Linked DNA regions of Homo sapiens. The protein of the gene in region 1 interacts with the protein of each later gene in a pairwise test. Each region holds a gene or a part of one and is shown in the gene's direction. Other genes may lie near its edges. The genes, in order: SPANXN2, SP3, KHDC4 and ZNF75A.

Region 1 (6,896 bases):
ATCCAGTTTTGTTCTCTTGCTGGGGAGTTGTGATCCTTTGGAGAAGAAAAGGTGTTCTGGTTTTTGGAAGTTTCAGCTTTTTTGCCCTGGCTTTTCCTCATCTTCATGGATTTATCTATTATTGGTCTTTGATGTTGGTGACCTTCAGATGGGGTTTTTGTGTGGATGTCCTTTTTGTTGATGTTGATGCTATTCCTTTCTGTTTGTTTTCTTCTAACAGTCAGGCCCCTGTGCTGCAGGTCTGCTGGAGTTTGCTGGAGGTCCACTCCAGACCCTGTTTGCCTGGGTATCACCAGCAGAGGCTGCAGAACAGCAAATATTGCCGCCTCTTCCTTCTTCTGGAAGCTTCGTTCCAGAGGGGCACCCACCACATGCCAGCCGGAGCTCTCCTGTATGAAGTGTCTATAAATCCCTCCTTGGAGGTGTCTCCCAGTCAGGAGGCATGGTGGTCAGGGACCCACTTGAGGAGGCAGTCTGTCCCTTAGCAGAGCTCGAGCATTGTGCTGGGAGATCCATTGCTCTCTTCAGATCCAGTAGGCAGGAACGTTTAAGTCCGCTGTATCTGCGCCCACAGCCACCCCTTCCCCCAAGTGCTCGGTCCCAGGTACATGGAGTTTTATCTATAAGCCCCTGACTGGGGCTGCTGCCTTTCTTTCAGAGATGCCCTGCTCAGAGAGGAGGAATCTAAAGAGGCAGTCTGGCTACAGCAGCTTTACCGAGCTGGGGTAGGGTCCGCCCAGTTGAAACTTCCCTGCAGCTTTGTTGACACTGTGAGGGGAAAGCCACCTACTCAACCCTCTTAATGGTGGACACCCTTCTGCCCACCAAGCTGGAGCATCCCAGGTCGACTTCAAACTGCTGTGCTGGCAGTGAGAATTTCAAGCCAGTGGATCTTCGCTTGCTGAGCTCCATGGAGGTGGGATCTGCTGAGCTAGACTACTTGGCTCCCTGGCTTCAGCCACCTTTCCAGGGGAGTGAACGGTTCTGTCTCGCTAGCATTCCAGGCGCCACTGGGGTATGAAAAAAAAAACTCCTGCAGCTAGCTTGGTGTCTGCCCAAACGGCTGCCCAGTTTTGTGCTTGAAACCCAGGGCCCTGGTGGCATAGGCACCCGAGGGAATTTCCTGGTCTGCAGATTGCAAAGACCATGTGAAAAGCATAGTATCTGAGCCAGAGTGCACTGTTCCTCACAGCACAGTCCCTCACAGCTTCCATTGGCTAGGGGTGGGAGTTCCCTGACCGCTTGTACTTCCCAGCTGAGGTGACACCCCACCCTCCTTTGGCTTGCCCTCTGTAGCCTGCACCCACTGCCTAACCAGTCTCAGTGAGATGAGCCAGGTACCTCACTTGGAAATGCAGAAATCACCTGCCTTCTGCATTGATCTCGCTGGGAGCTGCAGACCGGAGCTGTTCCTATTTGGCCATCTTGCCAGCCACTCCCTTTAATTGTTTATTATTCATTTGGGTTGAAAATATAATTACTGAAGTTTTCAATAGGAGTTATTCTATAAAGTACGTTGTAATCTTTCAATAGAAATATGCACTAAATGTTTTCTTAACATTTGGATTAATTTTCCTTGGATAGTGATATACCCATTGAAACATTTTTGGTAAACAAATTTAGAAAACAATTTTAAAAGGTAGTAAGATGATTGAAAGCTGTTATTTTCAAAAATTGTAATCAGTTTCTGACTTACTGTGTTTGATGTGGCATATGCCTTTTGGTTTTCTGTTTGTTTTGTTTTCCATAACATGATATGACAGGGTGTTATTCTCACTGTTGATTGCAGGCAAGAGTACAAAAAATTATTAGAAGTTAGCTTGTGAGCATTTAATAAATGGAATTGTTGAACTATAGACAATGTCTGGGGTTCACTAAAAATGTATACCTTAATAAGAATCTTCTTTTGATTTGTTAATGTTTAGATGACAGTCATGAGAATGCAATAAATGCCTTGTGTCTGGAGGTCAGCGGGGTATCTTTCTAGGCCTTTCTTGTTTTTATGGTGTATAAAATAAAGTTATGTGAGCTTGATGAACACTGGAACAAAATTCCAGGGTCTACTTCTCGTTTGTCTTATTTTTAGATTTTTTTTTTCATTATCAGGTTTTGTGACTTCTTATAGAGAATGAGACAAGTGTCAGTCAACCTGTGGGAGAAATCCTGGGCCATGCCTTCTCTATTTTCAGTCCTCTTTCTTACTGTCTTTTAAAATATTTTTAGATTTTTATTTTGAAACAATTATAAATTCACAAGAAGTTTCAAAGATACGTACATGGAGGCCTTTTGTACCCTTCAACCAGTCTCTCCCAATAGTAAAATCTTCAATACACTACCACATTACACTATCAAAACTAGAACATTGACAGTGATGCAATCCAGAGCTTTTTAAGATTCAACACTTTTCTTTTGACTATTCTAGGCACTTTATATTTCCATAGGAATATTATAATTATCTTGTCAATTTCTATTAAAAAGGCTTTTTAGAATTTTGATTAGAATTTAGTTGAATCCACAGATGAAATTGGAAATAACTGCCATTTTACAATATTGAATCTTCCAACCGAAAATCAAAGTATAGATCTCAATTTTTTTCTTATGTCATTAATTTATCATTGTAAATTTTTGTAGTTTTAAGTGTACAAGTCATTTACATCTTTGGTCAGATTTATCCCTAAGCCTTTAATATTTTTAGTGATATTTTAAATTGCACTGTTCTTAGTTTCAACTTTCAGTTGTTGAAATTAACTTCCAGTCCACCCTAGGACTACCATTGGCTAAAACATTGTCTCTTCTAATATAGAAACTTCTCATATGTAACTGCTAATATATAAACATACAATTGATTTGTGTGTTGATCTCTTACTTTGCAATTTTGCTAACCTCAATTAATGTAGAACCATTTTTTTAGATTGACTTTTCTACATATACTCTCAGGTAGTCTTTGACAAAAGATACTTTTACTTCTCCCTTTCCAATCTGAATGCATTTTTTTTTCTTTTACACTGGACACAATCTCCAGTACAAAGTATAACTGTGCCCATACTGGTGCACATGTGGGTCTTAGATTGTAGCATCCTGCAGGTAAATACTCAGAACAACTTCCAGCACTTGAATATCCACTCCTTCCCCCACCCACATACTGGCAGAATTCATGTTGGGATACTACATTTACTATGAACATAGACCCCTGATTTGAAACAAGACTAGGATACATGGTAAAGAAAGTTTATTCACCAAAGTTTTGACAGACTGAAGGCCATTATTTCAGATTGGAGATAGGAAACTTAAAAGAACTACATGGACATTGGGTAAAAGAACATGGGTTGAAATTTGCCTGGCAGTAGCCTAAAAGTAAATGGTCTTCAAGGTGCATGTGAAGGAACTGTAGGAGGGAAATGGGATAATTCACATCTCCACCAATAATTAAATGTAGCCACACTAGCTTGGAGGGATTTGAGGTGAGACATCTAAAATACTAAGTCATGGTGAGGGCTGGAAGACAAAAGAATGAATGACTTCATAGGAATGACTGTGGGGAAGGGCTTGAAGGAATCATCCTCTCACTTCCATGTGAACCATGAACATTAAACATGGAGAAATGAGCAGCAGCAGATTAGTTTGGGATGCATCTTCAGGGGATGCTGAAACAACAACAGCATTTGGTTTCCTCTACACCCCTGTCATCCGTCCCCCACAAGCCCAGGGAGTGGTCAGCAGTGGTGCTTTGTGATGTCTAAGCCACCCTAGGACTGCCATTGGCTGGGACACTGCCTGTATGATCAAACAAAGCTCAAGAGTGTGGCTTTGCCTTGCCACCAGGAAGGTATACATAGGGAGGGCCAGAGCTCTGGGACATCCTCCTGGCAAGCTTCAATATAGCTGTGGAAGTCTGCAGTCTACAAGAGCCTACTATAGACATTCTACAACCAAGCAGAATCATGGAACAGCCGACTTCAAGCACCAATGGGGAGAAGAGGAAGAGCCCCTGTGAATCCAATAACAAAAAAAATGATGAGGTAAGATTGTTAGGTTTTGAAGGGAAGGTGAGGGTGAAAGAAAGACACACAGAGAAGGGACGGCTCAAACAGCAACACAGGAATACTGCAGACACCTGTGGAAGTGGGGGACCCGCTTAATGCCAGAACCCACCGCCGCTTACAGGCTGGGGTGCTTATAGGTATGGGTGGGAGGGGCCGGGGCAGTATGGCTTGCTGCCCGGCAGGATATTGATAAGATGTTTTTATGATCAGGCTGTTTGGTCCTTTTTCCAGTGGGATGTCATTGTGGTGTTTCTTGGAACTTTGCCCAGCAAGATACCATAGGAAAGTTTCTTTAGTTGGACCTGTGTCCGCCTTGTGTTACGACGATTAGGCAAGATTTTTCTCATGGCCCGAACCCCCGTGGAATGTTTCACTTTGATCAAGGTCTGCAAAATAGCAGGGTGCTTACTAAATGGTGGTTTGGACTCACATTCTTGCCTTCTACTTTAGTATAAAAGGAAGAGGGGCATTGTTGATTATCTGGCTGCTTGCTGCCGAATAGGGGAGCTGTAATCAGGGTTTGGGTTTTGAAGCAGGGGGTGACGGACTTCAGAGTTGTTTTCCTGGAGGCACTGGTACCGGACTTGGCAGAGGAGAAGGATGGTATCAATGTGTTGCTGGGTGGCTGCCTGGAGAGGGGAGTTTAGCCTTCGGGAGATAAAGCAGGATATGAAGGTGAGTATACATCGGCCAAATGTACTATCAGGAGGAGGAAGATTAACGGCCCTAAGAAAGGGACCACCTGCTATCCCAGTGCTGAGTGCATCAGAGATGTTTAGTTCTGCTAACACTAGAATGAGATGTACAGCCTGCTTAGTGTGTGTGGAGGAAGATGAGACAGAAGCTACTAAAGGAACCTGGATGGTCTGCTTGTTAGGCAAAGTGTTAATGTTTAGATTGAAACACAAGGGTGCATGTTCCTGACCAATTGGCCAGTAGGCAGAGATAAGAGTTTGTGCCGCAAAGGAAGAAGACACTAGGGGTGGACAGACAAAAGTTGTAGGTTATGGTGGCAAGTCATGAGAAGGTGGGGGTTGAATTCTGCACAAACCCTTTGTTTTAACTTTTATGTTTTTCCAAGTTGAATACCTGCCAGCAAGGGTAGCCCCTCTGAAGGCCTGATAGGAAATGTTGGTAGTGGAGGAGGTGAAGGCTGTTTGGTTTTGGAGAGAGAGCAGGAAATGGGTTTTTGTAACTAATAGCCATTGCGGTCCTGACAGCGCAGAAGGATACAGGTTGCAGTTGAGGGAATTGTTTGTGGATATTTTCCAGGGAGCGCCCTTGACTTGGATACATGGAGAGCGGCTCCGGCAGAAAGGGGAGGGGTTGATAAGAGGTATTTTCTGGAATCCGACTGGTAACATGTTTAGTTAAGAGGCTATGAGGTGAAGGAGGGTGACAGCCCTGTGTGTGACGGTGTGGGTGGATTTGATGGATTGGTGGGGGGGGAAAGGTGATTAGCCGAGCAAGATTATAAGCAGGTTTTGCGAATGAATTGGTCAATTAGGTGAAATGCAGGTTTATTTTGGACAGGGTTCATGTGGCCAGGTTAACAGGAAGGGCTGTGAACTACTGGATTTGTGTGGACAAACAAATTTAACAGTTGGAAGGAAGAGGGGAGTGTGACTGATTTAAGAGGCAGTGAGGCTGATGAAGGGGGCTCATCTGTTAGACGTTCGGGGTGGGGACTTAGAATATCCCACAGATAGAGAGGACAAAAGGAGAAAGAGGAGATTTGAGTAGGAGTGAAATTTTGGAAGGTGCCCTGAAGTCATATCTCCTTGATTAGTGTGACAAATTGGCCTGGACTATTCAGGGTCATGGGGAAGGGAAACCAGGAAAGATCTGAAATAAAGTAGGAGACAAAAGATTGGAAACTGGAGACAGAGAGTGTTATGGACTAAGGTGTTCTGGATTGGCAACTTCTGGAATTCTTGTTAAGTACAGTGAGGTTGGTCTTGTCAGGGAAGGAGAATAATTTGGGGGTGAACAAATTTCTAGATGTGGATCTGGTGCTCTTTTTAGTTTGAAATGTGCATTCAGTGTGCAAAGGATGTTAGCTTTGGCGCTGTGGGAGTAGTTAGCATCACCTGGTGAGAATTCCTCCACTTAGGTTGGAGAGCGGGGGAGGAGGAGTCTGTGATTCAGACCCAGCCCGCTGGTTGTAGGGACAGGGAGGAGTGTTTTGAGGATGGACTTTTAGGCTGGGTCAAGTAAGCATTTGCGTACTGTCTTATTAGATGTTGGGTGAGGTGTAACGCCGGCCAAGTATTCCATATAGAATGGGGGGAAAATACAGGGAGATTCTGGAGGATAAATGGAGCATTTGTACATGAATTTAAATGGGCTTAGGCTGAGCGCTTTTAGGAAATGACTCATAATCGCATGAGGAACAATGGGAGAAGTGAAGTCCAGGCCATTTTAACCTTTAAGGAGAGTTTGGTTAGTTGTTGTTTTTTATAAAATTTTTCCTGAAGATTCGGAGTGGTAAGGAATATGGAAAGCCCATTTAATGTTTAGAGCCTTTACCAGCTGTTGGTTAAACTGAAACAAATTGGCCCATTGTCTGACTGGATGCAAGAGGGGAGTTTAAACCGGTGGATAATATGGGTGGAGAGAATAGAAGCGATGGTGTGTGCCTTTTTGGTGGTGGTAGGAAAAGCTTTTATTCATCCAGAGAATGTATCTACTATTGTTAGAATGTATAGGAATCACTTTCTGGGGAGCATGTGAGTGATGTTGATTTGCTAGTCCTGCCCTAGTAAGTGTCCTCAGGTCTGGTGTGTGGGAAAGGAGATGGTTTGATAGCTTCCTGAGGGGAAGTTTGAGTGCAAAGGGAACATGCCTTAGTAA
Region 2 (6,140 bases), on another chromosome or scaffold:
ATCTTTGGTACAAATTTGATATTTTTGTGAAATCACCTCATAATTTTATTTAGTGTTGAAGAAACAACATTGGCCCCTTGCCTTGTTCAGACAGATTTGCGTATAATGTAAATATATATATTAGTGGCAGAAACAAAGTACTGTAGAAACCTAGAAGAGGGAGAATTCTGCATGAAGTCTGGGAAACTCAGCAGAAATGGCGTTTGCAAAGGTACAGTGTGGTATGTTGGGTGATGGGGGACTTTGTGAGGGACAGAGTGGAAAAATTTTTAAGAGGGGCTGCCAAATTGCAAAAGAGAAGAATTTTTTTTGTCAGTGATTCCTAGTCTTTTTGGAATCCTACACCTTCTCCCCAGAAAAATTCATTCTAGTCCAGGGTTTATTGTTTGTTTTTTCCCTATATTTGACAGGGTCTGTCTCTGTCACACAGTGCAGTGGTGCAATCATGGCTTACTGCAGACTCCACTTACTGGTCTCAAGCAATCCTCCCCACTTCGGCCTCTTAAGTAGCTTGGACCACAGGTGCACACCACCATGCTCAGTTAATTTTAATTTGTTTTGTAGAGATGGGGTCTCACTATATTGCCTAGGCTGGTCTTGAATTCCTGGGCTCAAGTGATCCTTCCACCTCTGCCTCCCAAAGTGTTGGGATTATAGGCGTGAGCCACCACGCTTGGCCAAATCTGGAGTCTAAAGGGTATACAAGGTTTTTTTTTTTCCCATGTTGGCTTTTATTTGATGTTATAAAGTCTTCATGATATGAATATATTTTTTAAAAAGGTGTCATGTATATTGTCATGTAACATGATTCATGCCACTTCATTGTATTAAATACGTTTAAGATACAGTTTTTGATGTTAAGAATGATATCCTGAGAAGGCCTATCTCCTTCAGTCCTTTTCCCCATTTTTCACCTTTTAACTCTTGCTTCTGAATCTATGCTAAGCTACTTACTAGATGTGTGATATTGGTAGTTTTCTTACCTTAAAACCTCATTTTCATCATCCATGAAGAGGCTAACAATAGTACTCCCTGTTGATAGGATTGTTGTATTAAAATATAAGCATTCAGCATAGTGCCTGACTTAACGGTAGAGATTCAAATGGTAACCTCCTTCCAATGCCTTCCTCCCCCCTTAACTCTGGAGATTCCATTTTTCTGTAGTGAAGTGTTTTAGAATTTTCATTGTTTGACTATGGTTCATACATTGATTTTTCCAAAATGAGAAGAAGTCTTATTTCTAATGCAAAAATGTGAAAAGAACAGTTGGAACCTAAAGTGATAGTGGATGAAGTGTCTGAAGTGACTGCCCTATCAGAAAAGGATGGAATAAGAAGAAAAGACTGAAGCACCTAAATGTGTATTTTCTTGAGGAAATTACACCCCTGTGTAAGAGTCTATCCTATTTGAACATTTCTAAAAACCAGCCGAAGAATCTTCAGGTTCATTGCGACTGAAAGATAAAGTCTAGCACTGAAGTGGTTTTTAAGATTAGGAAAGGCCATCAGAGAAATGCAGTTATTTCTCCCCTCCATCCTTCCCCCACAAAAAAAAGTCTAAGCCTCCGATTAATCGACAACAACGAAATACAGGAAGTATTGGCTTAGTGACCTTTTAGGATATCTGTCCGACTTACATCCCTTCTCTGAGCATTACTTTCTGCCACCTTCCGTGAGGAGCTGTTCAGAAATCAGACAAGGAGTGGACATCTGGTCAAAGTTGAGCCAATTAGATGATTTCTCCTGAGAATTTGGAATTGGAAAACTGATGTCTTGGGAGGTCACATCTGGAACATACATGGGAGGCAGAGAAAGCAAAGATGACATTCAACCCCAGAAGAAAAAGAAAATGGCTTTCTTGATTCCTGATAACTTGGCAGTGTTTGTTCCAGTGTCTTGCATTTCACTATCTGCATTTCATCCTCCTGGGGTTCCACAAGATAGCCTTAAAACCTTACAGAGAGACTCCCCAACTTAGTTTTTTCTTAAGTCAGAAGGCTGTTACTTGCTACCAAATAATGCCAACTAAGACAACTGAGGTACAGTATATTCTCTCGTAAAACACCATAGAGTTGATGACTTGATCCTATAGAAAAGGGTCCCCAACCCCTGGGCCACAGACCGGTACTGGTCCCTGGTCTGTGAGGAACCACCTGGGCCACAGACTGGTCCTGGTCCCTGGTCTGTGAGGAACCAGGCCATACAGCAGGAGGTAAGCGAGCATTCCTGCCTGAGCTCTGCCTCCTGTCAGATGAGCCACAACATTAGATTCTCATAGGAGTGCGAACCCCGTTGTGAACCCCGCATGCGAGGGATCTAGGTAGTGCCCTCCTTAAGAGAATCTAATGTCTGATGATCTGAGGTAGAGCAGTTTCATCCTACAACCATCCCCACCCCCCGACCCCCATCCATGAAAAAATTGTCTTCCTCAAAACTAGTCCCTGGTGCCAAAAAGTTTGGGGACCGCCGTCCTAGGAAATACCAACAAAAAGTCACGTTTATTGCCTGCCAAGTGAGTCAGGTTTAGACAAGGCAGAACTTAGTATATAGCTTGGATGAATCAGAAAGGGTGGGCCTTGAAAGACTGGTAGAATGTGTCCAAGAAAACTGATTAAAAGCCTTAGAAGTCCCTCTACAGTTTCAGGACGCCCTCTTAACAGATGGCTGTATCTTTATCTGTGGTTGGTCTTGTGGAATACTGACTTTCTGCCAGCATTAGCCTGTGTTTCTATGTCACACCAAGTCACGTATATTTTCATTGTGTGTTAGGACTCAGAATAGGTTTGGGTCTTTCTTTTAATTATGTATACCCAATTACTTAGTCCTCCTCACACCCTGATCCTTTAAAAATTCTTAAGTTGTGTTAATTGCATTTTTCTCAATTCTACTCCTAGTAACTCTGTGTGTTTTTTTCCATCTTTATTCATTTAGTAAAGTTGAAACCTTTCATAGCATAATATAGTGATTAAGTGCATAGGTTTGGGACTTAGACACACATGGGCTTGCTTGTCTCCCAGTTCTGCCGCTTACCACCTATGTGACCTTTCACTCTTTACCTTTCCACTCTTAGCCTGTTCTCTAACTATAAAATGAGAATGATGCTAGCGTCATCTTCATAGAGTGATTATGGAGATAAATAAGTTAATGCATGTAAACCACTTTCCATAATGCCTGGCACATATTATATTATGTATTAGTAAATGTAAGCACTGGAAGAATCAGTAGTCTTCCTACACTTGAAAATAGTTGTCTTCAACTATTGTTGTATTAATGAGTTAATTCACCTTGTTAAGTCACCTTGATCCACCTAATTGTCAGCCAACATTTATTAACGAAACTGCTAGTATTCGTATTGTGCCTTTTTTATTATGAAACATTTCAAGAATACAGAAAAATGCAGAAAACAATGTAACAAATACCTAAGTATCTATCACCCAACTTTTATAGTCTTATTTTTACCTATATATTTTTTCTTTTAGAAAGGAATGATCACAGTTGTGCCTGAAATCTGTATAGCCCTGTCTCATTTCATTTGTCTCCCTTTACCCACATAAGTAATTGCAGCTCTGAATTTGATGTTTATCAGAATGATACCATGAGTGGTTTTATATCCTTATTATATGTATGCATACCTAGGATTGTTTTTCTGATTTTGAAACTTCATATAAATGGTATCATTCTGTACAAAACCTTCTGGGACTTGTTTTACCACTCATGTTTTTGAGATGTATCCACACTACCATCTTTCTCTAAATCATTCATTTAAATGCTGTAGTTCATTGAATAAGTTTATCACAATGTATCCATTTTCTTCTTGATGAGCATCTCAGTTATTTCCAATTTTTGACTTATAAACAATGCTGCAATGAAATAATTGACATATTTCCTTGTGTACATGTGAGCATTTCTTGAGATATGTATCTAGAACTTGAATCACTGGCCAACAGGATATTCTTAATCTTCAGTTTCACCAGATACTTCCAAATTGATCTCCATAACATGCATACCAAATTATATTCCTACCAGCCATTTATAGGAGTTCACATTTTTTCCATACCCTCCCAATCCTGCCTTGGCAGATATGTTTTTTCCAATGAATAACAATGAAATTTTGTTTTGGGATTTGACAAAATGATTCTAGATTCATCTGGAAGAAAAGCAAGTATAAGTAAGAAATTTAAAAGGGACCTGAAAAACTAAGCAATGGATATATTTAAAAATTGGTACCAGTAGGGATAACCAAATATTTGTTAACTGTAGCAGAAACAATGCATGTTTTTCTCACTGGTTCCACCTTCTATCTCTCAGTCAAGCCCTGCCCAGGTGTGGTAGTCCTCATAGTCTCTCACTGTAGGGGTCTTCTCACATAGTAGACCACTCTCTTGAGTTGAATATTGAAAAGAAGGCTTGGCCGGGGGCAGTGGCTCATGCCTGTGGTCCCAGCACTTTGGGAAGCTGAGTCGAGCGGATTGCTTGAGGTCAGCAGTTCGAGAGCAGCCTGACTAACATGGTGATGAAAAGTACAAAATTAGCTGGGGGTGGTGGCGCATGCCTGCAATCCCAGCTACTCGGGAGGCTGAGGCACGAGAATCGCTTGAACGCAGGAGGCATAGGTTGCAGTGAGCCGAGATTGCACCACTGCACTCCAGCCTGGGCGACAGAGCAAGATTTCGTCTCAAAAAAAAAAAAAAAAAAAAAAAAGGCTTAAGTCCAACTAACTGTTTCCCTGCTGTTCATTTTATCCAACGGCTGGGGATATAGGCTACTGCACATGATGGGTTGATGGATGTGAAATGATAACTCATGACTTTAATTCTAATTTTTCTATATTCTGGTGAGGTTGAGCATATTTTTACAAGTTCATAATCCATTTTCCTCTGATGGGAGTTGCCTGTTTGAATCCTTTGCCCACTTGCTTTTTGGGGTTATTTGCAATTTTTTGCATTGATCTTCAAACATTCTTAATTAATCCCAGGTACATATTATTTTATATATAAGATATATTTTAGAGATATATAGGCTGATAGTATCTTTTCTCAGTCTAAGGCTTATCTTTTAATTTTGTTTATGGTGTTTTGTGTGTGTTGTTTTGCAGAAGTTTTATTGTATCTGAATTGTGGCTTTTGTGTCTTAAGAAATTCTTTACCTACTGTCATAAAAATTTTTGTCTAAAAATTTTATGATTTTGCCTTTCTATTTATCTTGTTAATTCACTTTGAAATTACTTTTGTTTATGGCATAAAGTCCATTATTTTCCATATGGATAATCAGTTGTCTTAGCAGTTTATTGAATGGTCCAACGTTTCCCTGCTGATTATAATGCCCTCTCTGTTATTTATCCTAAATTCTTGACATCCGGTAAGGAAGTCTCCTCTGCCCACCCTTCTCTGTATTTCAAAATGGTTTTGACTGTTCTTGACCCCTTGCTCTTTCTGTGAACTTTAGGATTAAATGATTATGTAGAATTAAACAATCGGGTTAAGGTTTTTTATTAGAATTACATTGAATCTATAGATTAATTTGGGGAAAGAATGTTATCTTTCTATCCATGATAATTCTGTATCTCTCCATTAATTCAAGTCTTTAATGGTTTTTAAAAATAAATTATTGTCTCTTTGAAAATCCTTACACATCCTTTATTGCACTGATTCGTATGTAGTTTATGTTTTTGTTGTTGCTTTGGAGAATAGGCTTCTTAAAATTAAATGTTTAAATTGATCAATGCTGGAGTATATAAATGCTATTGATATTTGTAAAATGATTTTGTCTAATAATCTTACATAATTCTTTTGCTGTTCTAATAGTTTGCCTGTAGATCCTATACGATTTTCTGTGGAGACAGTCATATTGTCCTCAAAGAAGAAAATGTTTGTCTCTTCATTTCCAAGTCTTGTGCCTCTACTTTTAATCAACAGCTTAATGTTAAACAGAAGTGGTGGTGCCAGACATCTCTGTCCTGCTTCTGACTACTATTTACTTTTCTTTCTCACATGTAACTATAACATTATTCAGTTCTTATAACATGGTAAGATAGGTGGAATAGGCATTATCTCCATTTCTAGTTAAAGCTGAGTGGGCCAGAGTATCACTCCAAAACACACAGCTAGTAGATGTCAGAATATGTACTCCAGACTTTCTGAC
Region 3 (6,879 bases), on another chromosome or scaffold:
CCACTGAAACACAGGGGGAGTAGCAAGGAGAGGAGACTGACAGAGAGGTTATGGGACCTAGCTCTATGGATTTTATGTGCTCTCCATGGTGTCACTGCTTTAGAGTTGGTAGTAAATGACCTAATAATACCTAAATGACCACTAGGAAAGAATAATTGATTCATATGTCAATTTTTTGACCATGCACCCAACAGAAAGGAAAAATGACCTCAGCCTAACGTATCTCACTTTAGAGAGAGTTTTTCAATTAACAGTAGAACAAAGTGCTATTGAATTGAGTTTAGAAAATCAGATTCCGTTGTATCAATAGAGAAATGTTTTATTATTTTATGTTTCTTTGCTCTGTCACCCAGGCTGGAGTGCAGTGGTGTGATCATGTCTCACTGTAGCCTCAACCTTCTCGATTCAAGTGATTCTGCCACCTCTGCCTCCTGAGTAGCTGAGACTACAGAAGTGCCACCACACTGGCTAATTTTTATTTTTTGTGGAGATGGGGTCTCACTCTGTTGCCCTGGCCTCAAGTGATCCACCAGCCTCGGAATCCCAAAGTGCTGGGATTATAGGCATGAGTCACCTCACTTGGCCATCAAAAGAGAAATGTTATTGGTGAAATTAAGACTTTTATGAGAATTATAAGGCTGGGCACGGGGCTCACACCTGGAATCCCAACACTTTGGGAGGCCGAAGCAGGAGGATCACTTGAGGTCAGAAATTCACGACCACCCTGGTCAACATGGTGAAACTCCATCTCTATTAACAATACAGAAATTAGCCAGGCATGGTGGCAGACACCTGTAATCCCAGCTACTCAGGAAGCTGAGGCAGGAGAATCACTTGAACCTGGGAGGTGAAGGTTGCAGAGAGCTGAGATAGCACCATTGCACTCGAGCCTGGGCAACAAGAGTGAAACTCCATCTCAAAAAAAAAAAAAAGAATTATAAATAAGTGAACTAAACATTTAACTTAAGAAAATAAGGGGGGCCGGGCGCAGTGGCTCATGCCTGTATTCCCAGCACTTTGGGAGGCTGAGGCAGGCGGATCATGAAGTCAGGAGATCGAGACCATCCTGGCTAACACAGTGAAACCCTGTCTCTACTAAAAATACAAAAAATTAGCCGGGCGTGGTGGCAGGCACCTGTATGTAGTCCCAGCTACTTGGGAGGCTGAGGCAGGAGAATGGCGTGAACCCAGGAGGCGGAGCTTGCAGTGTGCCGAGATCGCGCCACTGCACTCCAGCCTGGGCAACAGAGTGAGACTCAAAAAAAAAAAAAAAAAAAAAAAAAAGTAAGGGAGGAAAACAATATAAATTTTCCCAAAAGGAAGGCTGGGTGTGGTGGCTCACGCCTGTAATCCCAGCACTTTGGGAGGCCAAGGCCGACAAATCATCTGAAGTCAGGAGTTGGAGACCAGCCTGGTCAACATGGTGAAACCCCATCTCTACTAAAAATACAAATAATTAGTTGGGTGTGGTGGCACGCACCTGTAATCCCAGCTACTCAGGTGGCTGAGGCAGGAGAATCACTTGAACCCGGGAGGTGGAGGTTGCAGTGAGACAAGATCACGCCACTGCACTCCAGCCTGGGCAACAAGAGTGAAACTTCATCTCAAAAAAAAAAAATTAATATGGAATTGATGAATAAAACTAAAAGCTAGGTTCTTTAACAAGGCAAAAAAAAAAAAAAAGATACGACACAGGAAAGACTAAGGAAAGTAAAAAGAAAAAAGATTTTTAAAAAATTGAAAATATCAAGGGTCGGGGATGATGTGGAGTAATAGGAACCCTGGTACATTGCTGGTGGGCATGTAAAATAGTGTAGCCAGTTGGTTTGGCAGTTCCACAAAAGTTAAACAAGATGTCCATATGACCTAGCAATTCTGCTTCTACATGTAAACCCTAAAGAATTAAAAACAGATACTTAAATACTTGTGAATGTTCACAGCAGCACTACTTACAATACCCAAGAGGTGGAAACAACTCAAATGTTAATCAATGGATGAATGGATAAATTGTGGTCTATACATCCAATGGAAAAGAAATTCAGTGATAAAAAAGAATGAAGTTTATTCAGTGATAAAAAAATGAAGTTCTGACATATGCTACAACATGAATAAACTTTGAAAACACTGTAAGTGAAAGAAGCCAGATACAAAAGGTCACACATTGTATAATTCCATTTATATAAAATGTGTAAAATAGGTAAATCCAGAGAAACAGTAGATTAGTGGTAGCCCATGTCTTGCGGGGCAAGAGAAATGTGAAGTGACTGTTAACAGGTGAGGGGTTTCTTTTTGGGGTGATGAAAATAATCTGGAATTAGATAATGATGATTGTGGCACAATCTTGTGGACACACTAAAAAACACTGAATTGTGCACTTAAATTTACTCTTTAAAAAGGGTAAATTTATGGCATAGGAGTTACATCACAAATTTTTTAAAATGACAAATATAATAAATAATGTAATTTCAATCAGAATCCCAACAGCATTGTGTTTTGGGGAGAAGAGGAAAAGGGGCACTTTGGGGAGGCCGAGGTGGTAGGATCGGTTGAGCCCAGGAGTTTGAGACCAGCCTAGGCAAAATAGTAAGACACCCCCCACCCCCGCACCCCCTACCACCCCGGTCTCTTAAAAAAAAAAAAAAAAAGCCAGGTGTGGTGGCCCGTGCTTGTAGTCCCAGCTACTTCAGAGGCTGAGGTGGGAGGATCAGGAGACTCATTGAAGCTCCAAGACATCCTAAAGGTTAGAAACCTTTAGCCTCGGCAGGGCGCGGTGGCTCACGCCTGTAATCCTACCACTTCGGGAGGCCGAGGCGGGTGGATCACCTGAGGTCAGGAGTTTGAGACCAGGCTGGCCAACATGGCTAAACTGTGTCTCTACTAAAAATACAAAACAACAACAACAAAAAATTAGCTGGGCGTGGTGGCGGGCACCTGTGATCCCAGCTACTTGGGAGGCTAAGGCAGGAGAATCGTTTGAACCCGGGAGGCGGAGAGTGGTTAGCCGAGATCGCGTCATTGCACTTCAGCCTGGGTGACGGAGCGAAACTGTCTCAAAAAAAAAAAAAAAAAAAAAAAAGAAACCTTTAGCCTACAGAATCAACTCAAACTCCTCAGCATAGCATTCAAGGCCTTTCATCTTCTGGCCTCCCACTCCAGCCAGCTCAACCGTTAAGTACACAGATGCCAGAACAGGGTGCTCCATAACCTATGCTTGATCGCCTCTCCAGTACTCAACCGGCTTTTTAGCGTCCCATTCTTAAACGCTCCAGCAAGATGAGCAGCTTATCTTCTTCGACCTTTGCTTAATATACAACTCTATCATACATATTTGCCTGCGTACCTGCCTTGCCACATTGAGAGTACCAGAATGGCAGGGCCTGCGGCTTATTCATCTTTTTATTTTTATATTCCCTGCTTGGTGCACAGAAATGAAGCAAACAAACAGAGAAATTCTCCAAATGATCTTTGCAACGAATCCTTTTCCTTTTCCTAAGTAACAGAAACGTGAAACGGGCAAAAGCCGCGGGAAGGCTGTCTCCCCAGACAGAAACTAGGACTCAACACAAACGTAGCGGAATTTGAGGAGAAACCTGTTTAATCTCCTGACTCATGCATATTGTCTTCTAGTCTAACAACATGCCCACGATAAAGATGGATTCAGCTAGCCCCGATTCCGCATTTATAGTAGGCACAGCAGCCATCTTTCTTAAGGTTAAGGCGCAACCCGGAAGATCACACCCTACCTGCCTCAGAAACGCCAGATGCCTTTAAATCATCGAGAGTCCAATCGGAATCGACATTTTCACCGGAACCGCTCGGCCCCACGACCGGAAGAGGCTGTGCGTAAGAACGTTGGGGGCGGAAGTGACGAGAGGTGGTAGTCGGATAGTTGGCGGGTGGTTGAGTAGAAGCGGTCGCCATGTCCGCGGGGAGCGCGACACATCCTGGAGCTGGCGGGTACGGCTTCAGGGGCGAGGGCATCGGAGCGAGCACTGGGGCGCAGGAGAGGCGGAGGGACCCTGAGAAGCTGCGTATAGGGTGGAAGGGTCCTTAAGTGGGAAGTAAAGGGCTGGACGTTTGGGGAGAAGGATCTTGAGCAGGCCTGGGGCCCTTAAAGGGCCGGCGGGGATCCGAGGGAGGAGGCAAACGGGGACTTTTGGAAGGGCGAGCCAAGGGGAAGGCGTAAACTAGAGCGTGTAGGATAGAGTGGAGTCTTTCGATATAGGTGACAGTAGAAACGAAAGATTTTGGGGAAGGGTTGAAAGTGGGGGTTTGTTAAATAAGCAATAATTGTTTAAGGAGAGGGGAGTTTTAGATTTGGAAGGTGATTCGGAGGTGTAAATGGAATATAATAGAGGGAAAATGGGGTGCTAAGGCGTAGTAAGGAAAGAATAACATACACGAAAGCTTTGGGGCCTAATGTTTTCCTTTTTCTCCATGTAGGCGCCGCAGCAAATGGGACCAACCAGCTCCAGCCCCACTTCTCTTCCTCCCGCCAGCGGCCCCAGGTGGGGAGGTCACCAGCAGTGGGGGAAGTCCTGGGGGCACCACAGCTGCTCCTTCAGGAGCCTTGGATGCTGCTGCTGCTGTGGCTGCCAAGATTAATGCCATGCTCATGGCAAAAGGGAAGCTGAAACCAACTCAGAATGCTTCTGAGAAGGTATTTGAAGTTGAAGGGTCTCCACTAATTGCGAATTTAATAGTTGTTTTGCCGGGCGCGGTGGCTTACGCCTGTAATCCCAGCACTTTGGGAGGCCGAGGCGGGTGGATCACAAGGTCAGGAGTTTGAGACCAGCCTGACCAACATGGTGAAACCCCGTCTCTACTGAAAATACAAAAATTAGTCGGGCATGGTGGCACGCGCCTGTAATCAGCTACTCAGGAGGCTGAGGCAGAACTGCTTGAACCCGGGAGGCGGAGGTTGCAGTGAGCCGAGATTGTGCCAGTGCACTCTAGCCTGGGCGACCCAATGAGACTCCGTCTCAAAAAAAAAAAAAAAAAGTTGTTTGTAATCCTGTAATCGCATAATAATTTGTGTTAGTAAAGGATAAATGGATATAGTAGTTGAGAGATCATTTAGTTTTGGAATGTTCCAGAACACATTTTGTTACAAATACATATTTACGAGGCGTTTTTGATTGGGCTGATTACATTTATGGACCAAATACCTTGTCTTGTCCTTGTTCACTTAGTTCAGCTTAAGCTGTATTTCCATAGTCATTTAAAGCAACATAACATGTTTTTAATATATGTGCTTTTTCCCTGAAGTCAGAGGAGTTCAGGTAAATCAAGTGAGCCCCATAGTGTCATCTCTAATTAGAACCTGTAGGGTTTTATTTATTTATTTATTTATTTTGATAGAGTCTCACTCTGTCACCAGCCTGAAGTGCAGTAGTGGGGTGATCTCGGCTCACTACAACCTCTGTCTCCTGGGTTCAAGTGATTCTGATTCTGCTGCCTCAGCCTCCCGAGTAGCTGGGATTACAGGTGCATGCCACCATGCCCGGCTAATTTTTTTTTGTGTTTTTAGTAGACAGGGTTTCACCATGTTGACCAAGCTCATCTCTGCCTCCCAAAGTGCTGGGATTACAAGTATGAGCCACCAGGCGCAGCCTATTGTTTGCAAAGATTGTGTGAGTCAGTCATCCATTTATAAGGTTTATGAGGAAAAATTAAAAGCATCTTGACAAAGATGTAGTGCTCCTTGTATATTAAGATTTTTAATACTGATGTTAATCGTTTAAGCTCTTTTTTTTTCTTAAAATAATAATCTTTAGGTAGTTGACCTCAGCAGGATACATAAACACTGGATTTAGAATCATAAAACCTAAAAACCCAGAATCCACAGTTTGAAACCCAGAATCCACAGTTACTGGTTACATGGCTTTGGCATAATGAAACTCAGCTTTCTCGTTGGTAATATATACCTGCATTGTGTAGTGCAGTAGTCACTAGCTTCATGTGGCAATTTAAATTAAAATTAAGGGGCTGGGTGTGGTGACTCACACCTGTAGTCCCAGCTCCTCTGTAATTCTTCTTGGATTCTTGGAAGGCTGAGGTGGAAAGATCACCTGAGCCTAGGAGCTTGAGGTTGCATTGAGCTGTCATTTTGCCATTGCACTCCAGCCTGAGCAGCAGAGTGACACCTTGTCTAAATAATACAAATAATTAAATACTCTCAGGCTCCATATCTGTGAGAAATAAATTCCTGTTGTTTAAGCAAAAAGCAAAGCAAAACCAAAATACAATTTAAAATTTAGACCTTTAGTCACATTAGCCACCTGCCAAGTGCTCAAGAGACACATGTGGCTAATGGCTACCATATTCGACTGATAGACTAGAACCCTTGTCACCAAAAGTTCTCTTGGACAACATTGATAAGTACTATTAAAGGCGGCCATAAGGATTCATTGAGATGATAATGTAAATGAATACTATAAGGGGTTAAATAAAGGTAAGGTGATATTGCTGAGTTTGTATTTAGTTTTGCCTCCACATTTAAAAAATGTATTTAATGCACAAAGTAAACAACAGTATGTTACCTTCTTGAGCAGATTTTCTAGACATAGGTTGGGGAGATAGGCCCCTGTAGTCCCAGCTACTCAGGAGGTTAAAGCGGGTGGGTGGATCACTTGAGGCCAGGAGTTCAAGAACAGCCTGGGCAACATGGTGAAACCCTGTCTCTACAGAAAATACAAAAACAATTAGCTAGGTGTGGTGCATGCCTGTGGTTCCAGGGTCTGGCTTGATTGCCCAGGCAGTGACTGTGCAGTGGCACAGTCTCTTCCTCCCAGGCTCAGCCTCCCAAGTAGCTGCGACTACAGACGCATGCCACCATGCCCGGCTAATTTTTTTTATTTTTTGAAGAGATGGGTTTGC
Region 4 (7,041 bases), on another chromosome or scaffold:
ACCAAGGGGCCTGCAAGAGAGAGCTCCGGTCAGAGTAAAAAATCTCCTCAAATGGACTGTCTCGATCCTAAGAGCTCTTGCTGGCACTTCCGGAATTTCACCTATGATGAAGCAGGTGGACCCCGTGAGGCTGTCAGCAAACTTCAAGAATTATGTCATCTATGGCTGAAGCCAGAGATCCACTCAAAAGAGCAGATACTGGAACTGCTGGTGCTGGAGCAGTTCCTGACTATTCTGCCCAGGGAGACACAGACCCAGATGCAGAAGCACCATCCACAGAGCATTGAGGAGGCTGTGGCTCTGGTAGAACACTTGCAGAGGGAATCTGGTCAAACATGGAATGGGGTGAGAAGAAAGATTCCTGACATGTACAGTGAAATAGGATGCAGGTGGATATAGTAGAGATGGTGGCAGTTAGTTGAGAAATTAGATGGATTAGGTAGGTCATTGTTTGGTTTTTTTTTTAAGGACAGTTAAGGTGGGACTTGAAACTACAGGCCCACAGAAAAGTTCACAGGTTTCAGAGATTGTGGTAGATACTTCCCTGGCCTTAGAGAAAGAGAGTTGCTTTTGCCCTCTTTGGAGCCAGGGTGAATTGAGGGTGTTGGGCCTAGTCTGGCTTGGCCAAGGAGACAGGACTTAAGTACTTAGAAACAGAATAAAAGGTAATAAAGAGTCAGGGAGGCTGGATGCAGTGGCTCACACCTGTAATCTCAGCACTTTAGGAGGCTGAGGCGGGTAGATCACCTGAGGTCAGGAGTTCAAGACCAGCCTGGACAGCATGGTGGAACCCTCTCTCTACAAAAATAAACAAATTAGCTGGGCATGATGACCGGTGCCTGTAATCCCGGCTATCCTCGAGGCTGAGGAGGGAGAATCATTTGAACCTGGGAGGTTGCAGTGAGCCGAGATCGCACCATTGCACTCCAGCCTGGGCAACACAGCAAGACTCCATCTCACAAAAAAAAAAAAAACAAAAAAAACAAAAAAAAAACGGGCCGGGTGCAGTGACTCACACCTGTAATTCCAGCACTTTGAGAGGCCAAGGCAGACAGATCCCCTGAGCCCAGCCTGGGCAACATGGTGAAACCCCGTCTCTACAAAAAACATGAAAATTAGCCAGGCATGGTGGCACACACCTGTGGTCCCAGTTACTTGGGAGGCTGAGTCAGGAGAATCACCTGAGCCCAGGAGGTGGAGGTTGCAGTGAGCTGAGATGGCACCATTGCACTCCCTTGGGTGACAGAGTGAGAACCTGTCAAAAAAAAAAAAAAAAGGCAGATCCACAAGGAGAACACAGGAAAACAAGGACACTTAAAGAAAAGGAGAAATTGGCCAGGTTCGGTGGCTCATGCCTATATTTCGAACACTTTAGGGGGTCGCGGTGGGAGGACTGCTTGAGACCAGCCTGGGGAACATAGTGTGACCTTGTTGCTATGAAAAAAAAAAAGAAAATAAGCCAGGCTGATGGCACATGCCTCTAGTCCCAGCTTCACAAGAGGTTGAGGTGAGAGAATTGCTTGACCCAGAAGTTTGAGGCTACAGTGAGTTATTATTGCAGCATTGTACTCTGGCCTGGGCAACAGAGTGAGACCTTGTCTCTTAAAAAAAAAAATGTTTTAGGCCAGGCGTGGTGGCTCACATCTGTGATCTCAGCACTTTGGGAGGCTGAGGCGGGCGGATCACAAGGTCAGGAGTTCAAAACCAGCCTGACCAACATGCTGAAACCCTGTCTCTACTAAAAATACATAAACTAGCTGAGCATGGTGGCGTGTGCCCGTAATCCCAGCTACTCAGAAGGCTGAGGCAGGAGAATGGCTTGAACTCGGGAGGCAGAGGCTGCAGTGAGCTGAGATTGCACCACTGCACTCCAGCCAGGGCAACTGAGCGAGACTCCATGTGAAAAAAAAAATGTTTTTAAAAATTAGGAAAAATCCAGCCTGGGCAACATGGTGAAGCTCAGTCTCTACAAAAAATACAAAAATCAGCTGGGCATGGTGGCGTGTGCCTGTAGTCCCAGCCACTCGGGAGGCTGAGGTGGGAGGATCACCTGAGCCTGGGGAGGATGAGACTGCAGTGAGCCATGATTGTACCACTGTACCCCAGCCTGGGTGACAGAGTGAGACCCCCGTCTCAAAACAAAACAAACAAACAAAAAAAACAACTAGGGGAAGACTGCACAAGAAAAGAAAACATAGAAAAAAGGGAAACAAAGATTTGGAAAAAAGAAAAATCCCAACAGAATAGCCAAGGACAGGAAATGCACTGATGGGTAATGTCCTCCCTATAGTAGATGAAAGTCTCTACTGCCTTCCCTTAATGCTTGTTCCTTGGCTCTGCTGACAAGTTGGGAGCCAGGGTATGAACTTGGTGGGTGGCGACACATCTGCTGACCTCGGGTCTGCTGGGAAGAATACAGGGCAGGACCTATGTTTGGTGTCAGAATCATCTGGAGGTAGGTTGGAGCCACTCCCCTTTTTTCTCCATTCTATCCCCATTCTCTGAAAACCTTCGCTGGCTATAGGGATAATCAGGCTGACAGGAAAACTTTTAAATTCATTTATTTGAATTTTAGAGAAAACTAGAAGACAGAAAACCACAACTGTGGGATTGAAGTCAACAGAAAAGGCCTGACAAGACAGTATTAGAATGAGTGGCCTGCCTGGCTGGGCACAATGGCTCACACCTATAATCCCAGCACTTTGGGAGGCTGAGGTGGGCAGATTACCTGAGTTTGGGAGTTTGAGACCAGCTTGACCAACATGAAGAAACCCCGTCTCTACTAAAAATGCAAAAATTAGCCAGGCGTGGTGGTGCATACCTGTAATCCCAGCTACTTGGAAGGCTGAGGCAGGAGAATCACTTGAACCCAGGAGGCAGAGGTAGCAGTGAGCCGAGATTATGCCTTTGCACCCCAGCCTGGGCAACAAGAGCAAAACTCATCTCAAAAAAAAAAAAAAAAATGAGTGGGCTGCCCAACCCTGCCAGTGGCCTGACCTAGACCGTATACAGAGGAGTAGAAGCTGCTGTGTTAAAGGGCTGGCAGGCACCACAGTTTGTTTCCTTTCACCCTAGTTTTCTCATATTTGTGTATAGTCATTTGTGGAGCATTGGTGGCCCAGTATCTCTTTAAGCCTTTTTTTGTCATTTTTTTTAGTGTCTTATACTACCCACAATGTGGGCTGTACACCTGTCGCTCTGCCTCCACCCCCACAAACCAAAAGTAAGTTCTGTGGTAACAAGGATGGGAATTATTTCTAGGTTGCAGTCCATGAGCTGGGAAAGGAGGCAGTGCTCTTGGGAGAAACAGCAGAGGCCTCAAGTTTCGGGCTGAAGCCAACAGAGTCCCAACCAGTGGGCGTATCCCAAGATGAAGAATTTTGGAATACATACGAGGGTCTGCAAGAACAGCTCAGCAGGAATACTCATAAAGAGACTGAGCCTGTGTATGAGAGGGGTAAGGAGCTTCATGATAATTTTCTTCTCCTGGGAGCTGTGATAATAGTTTATTCACCCAAAATGTCATGGGCATTTTTTGAATACCCTGCTCTGTGGATTTGTAAAACCAGCCTTGATAGCAACTATGATGTCCTTCCAGGCAGCAGTAGAAATGCCAACTGTGGATGAAAGTGGGAGTAGGCCTAGAGAACAGAAATATCTAAACCACAGAACTCTTGGTAATAACAGTGTGAACTCTGTTCCTTAGACTAGTGGAGAGGAAGGAAAGAAATGGAGTGGGAAGGCTTGGGGCCACTTCATCCTTGTAAAATACAGAAGGAATTGAGATCAGATGGGCTGTTAGTGGCAGAATGTGAAAACAGTTGTGTACCAGGAAAAACATAATAAAAGACAAAAAACTTCATCTCCTACCATACAGTGGAGTCCCTGAGTACTTCATTTTAAGATATCTTTAATTTTTGCCTAACTCAGAAAAATATGAGAGGAAAAAGGGATTTCCCTTTTATTTCTCTGATGAAAACTGAGGAAACATTTAGTTGGGGAACTAGTTCTAGGGGCTGGTGGATATTTGATTCTTATTTATGAAGAGACTGCTTCAGGCATCACACACACCACACGTGTAAAGGTGTCCCATCTGTACTTAAAAAGTCAGGATCAGTGTTTTAGAAATGAGCTCAGGATGTTTATAGATAAAAGAGATTTCTTCTGGCTCTTTTCCCCCCACAGCTGTGCCTACTCAACAGATTCTAGCTTTTCCTGAGCAAACAAACACCAAAGACTGGACAGTGACACCTGAGCACGTCTTGCCTGAGTCCCAGGTGAGCTGTGCTTTCCAGCTGTTGAGGGCTACCTTTCTCTGCTATGTATGATTAATACTGTCCAGGAGGGGTTCAGAGGTGTGTTAGTCCCGGGTGTTCTCTGGGCAACTGGGTACCTCCCAGGCTGTGGGCTGACGCCTTTTCTCCTTTTTTTCTGCCTTCTCACTTAAAAAAATCATGTTCTTTTAATTCCTTTATCGCCTGGCCAATTCATAGCCAGGTGGCTAGGCTGCTTCTGTACAGTGGCAGGTTCTGAGCTGAAGTCCATTCTCTTCTTTAGAGCTTGTTGACATTTGAAGAAGTGGCCATGTATTTTTCCCAGGAAGAATGGGAGTTATTGGATCCCACTCAGAAGGCCCTCTACAATGATGTAATGCAGGAAAACTATGAGACTGTCATCTCTCTAGGTAAAGATTTTCCCTTCCCTTTATGTAGTTGAGTACTCTATTCTTGGCTTACTGAGAAGGAACCCCAGTGAGGGGTGTCTTACTGTTCCAGGAGCTGGTTGATTCTCATCTAGATGGTATAGGGGAGGGTGTAGGTAGTGTATCCAGATCACCTGTGGAGCTTTTTCCAAATGTACATGCCGATTGCTTATCCCACATTGAGTCCTTTATCCTTTCCTTCTCTTTTCCACCAAACTTCCTCTTCTGTGTCTTACTTATCTCAGTAAGGGGCACATTCATTATCCAGTGGCTCAAGGCATACAAAGTAACAGTTTTCCTTTATTCTGATCTTGTCATCATACCCCACTGTTAATTCATTAGCAAGTTTTCTTAGCTTTACTTTGACATATCCTGACTGCAACAATGTCTCATCTTCTTGCACTGTTAGCATCCTGGTGTAAGCCAGTGTCATCTTGAACCAGGCATACATGCGTAGCTTTTTAACAGGTGCGCCTGCATCTCCTTGTGCCCTTCCACAGTCTGTTTTCTATACAGAAGCTAGATTGATCTTTTAAAAACCTAATCAGATCATGACATTTCCTTTCCTCAAAAGCATGTGGTCACTTACATTCAGAAAAAAAAGTCTGATATTACCAGGGCTCCAGGACACTCTACAGTCTGGTTCCTGCTCATCTGTCTGCCCTCATTTGCTACTGAAGCCCTTGCTCAGTCCTCACCAGCCACTTAGCTAGTCTCCTTGCTGTTAATTGAATTTGTCAAGTTCATTTTTACCCTCTTGTTTCATTTTATTTGGCACACTGGGCTTCCTGAATACTTCATTTTCAAATTGAGTACATCTAAGTTTTGCTCAACTCAGAAAAATGTATATCATGCAAGGGGAAAAAACGCTATATATATATATCTTTTTATTAACTTTCCTCTTGAAAACTGAGGATAATCATCTGGGGAACCGGTTCTAGGGGCTGGTAGACACTTGGTTCTAATTTACAAAGAACCAAGTGGTTACCATACACACTCTTAAAAAGGTGTCCTATCTTTCCAGAAAGAATCAGGATTTTCTGTATTTTAGAAATGAGCTAAGGATGATCATAGAAACAAGAGAAATATCCTCTGGCTCTTTTCCACCCACAGCTGTGCCTGCTCAACAGATTTTAGTCTTTCCTGAGCAGACAAACACCAAAGACTGGACAGTGGCACCTGAGCTCCTCTTGCCTCAGTCCCAGTTGAGCTGTGCTTTCCAGCAGTGTAGGGCTACCTGAGCATGACCTTATCTGCCTTTCCCTGCTGCCCAAGACCCACACTGCCCAGCATGTGCCCTGAGGCATGTTAGCCCCAGAGGTTCTACCCTGGACAATTAGGCTTGGCCCAGAGGGAACTGGGTACCTCCTAGGCTGTTTGCTGATCCCTTGGCTCCTTTTCTTCTGCCTTCGCCCCCGTGGGCCCCCGCCTTTTTTTTTCTTAAATCGTATTCTGTTAATTTCTTTAGCACCTGGCCTACCATGCAGTTCATACGCAGTTAGGCTGCTTCTGCAGTGGCAAGTTCAGAGCTGAAGTCCATTCTCTTCTTTAGAGCTTGTTGACATTTGAAGAAGTGGCCATATATTTTTCTCAGGAAGAATTGGAGTTACTGGATTACACTCAGAAGGCCCTCTACAATGATGTAATGCAGGAAAACTGTAAGACTGTCATTTGTCTAGGTAAAGATTCTCCCTTCTTTTTGTGTAGAAGTTGAGCAATCTGTTCTCAGTTTACTGAGAATGAACCTCTGTGAGAGGGTCTCAGTGTTCCAGGAGCTGGTTGATTCTCAACTAGATAGTGTAGCGGAGGGTGTAGGTGGTGTATCCAGATCACCTGGGGAGCTTTTCCAGATGTACGTGCTCATTCCTTGTCCTACGTGGAGATCTTGATCCCTTCCCTTTCCCTTTCCCCAAACCTTCTCCATCATGTTTTTCCCATCTCAGTAAGGGGCATCAGCATTATCCAGTTGCTCAGGGCAAACAAAGTACTGTCATGTTTTTTTTTTTTTTTTTTTTTGAGATGGAGCCTCGCTCTGTCGCCCAGGCTGGAGTGCAGTGGTGCGATCTCAGCTCAGTGCAAGCTCTGCCTCCCGGGTTCATGCCATTCTCCTGCGTCAGCCTCCCAAGTAGCTGAGACTACAGGTGCCCGCCACCATGCCCAGCTAATTTTTTTTGTATTTTTTTAGTAGAGATAGGGTTTCATCATGTTAACCAGGATGGTCTCCATCTCCTGACCTTGTGATCCACCTGCCTTGGCCTCCCAAAGTGCTGGGATTATAGGCGTGAGCCACCGTGCCCAGCTAGTACTGTCATCTTTTACCCTGATCTTGCCATCATACC

The links.
Region 2: the proteins of SPANXN2 (region 1) and SP3 interact in binary tests that used the Homo sapiens proteins (3 or more experiments, as listed by UniProt).
Region 3: the proteins of SPANXN2 (region 1) and KHDC4 interact in binary tests that used the Homo sapiens proteins (3 or more experiments, as listed by UniProt).
Region 4: the proteins of SPANXN2 (region 1) and ZNF75A interact in binary tests that used the Homo sapiens proteins (3 or more experiments, as listed by UniProt).

The regions. Positions count from the first base shown.
Region 1 is NC_000023.11:143,717,714-143,724,609, reverse strand, and holds the start of SPANXN2 (sperm protein associated with the nucleus on the X chromosome N2), read left to right. Parts: upstream 1-3,857; 5' UTR 3,858-3,941; coding exon 3,942-4,019; intron 4,020-6,896.
Region 2 is NC_000002.12:173,900,256-173,906,395, reverse strand, and holds the end of SP3 (transcription factor Sp3), read left to right. Parts: 3' UTR 1-5,621; downstream 5,622-6,140. UniProt on the Homo sapiens protein: Transcriptional factor that can act as an activator or repressor depending on isoform and/or post-translational modifications. Binds to GT and GC boxes promoter elements. Competes with SP1 for the GC-box promoters.
Region 3 is NC_000001.11:155,931,414-155,938,292, reverse strand, and holds the start of KHDC4 (KH homology domain-containing protein 4), read left to right. Parts: upstream 1-3,879; 5' UTR 3,880-3,919; coding exon 3,920-3,957; intron 3,958-4,443; coding exon 4,444-4,660; intron 4,661-6,879.
Region 4 is NC_000016.10:3,308,492-3,315,532, forward strand, and holds part of ZNF75A (zinc finger protein 75A), read left to right. Parts: coding exon 1-345; exon of another isoform or gene 346-2,455; intron 2,456-3,157; exon of another isoform or gene 3,158-3,261; coding exon 3,262-3,457; intron 3,458-4,185; coding exon 4,186-4,277; intron 4,278-4,557; coding exon 4,558-4,684; intron 4,685-7,041. UniProt on the Homo sapiens protein: May be involved in transcriptional regulation.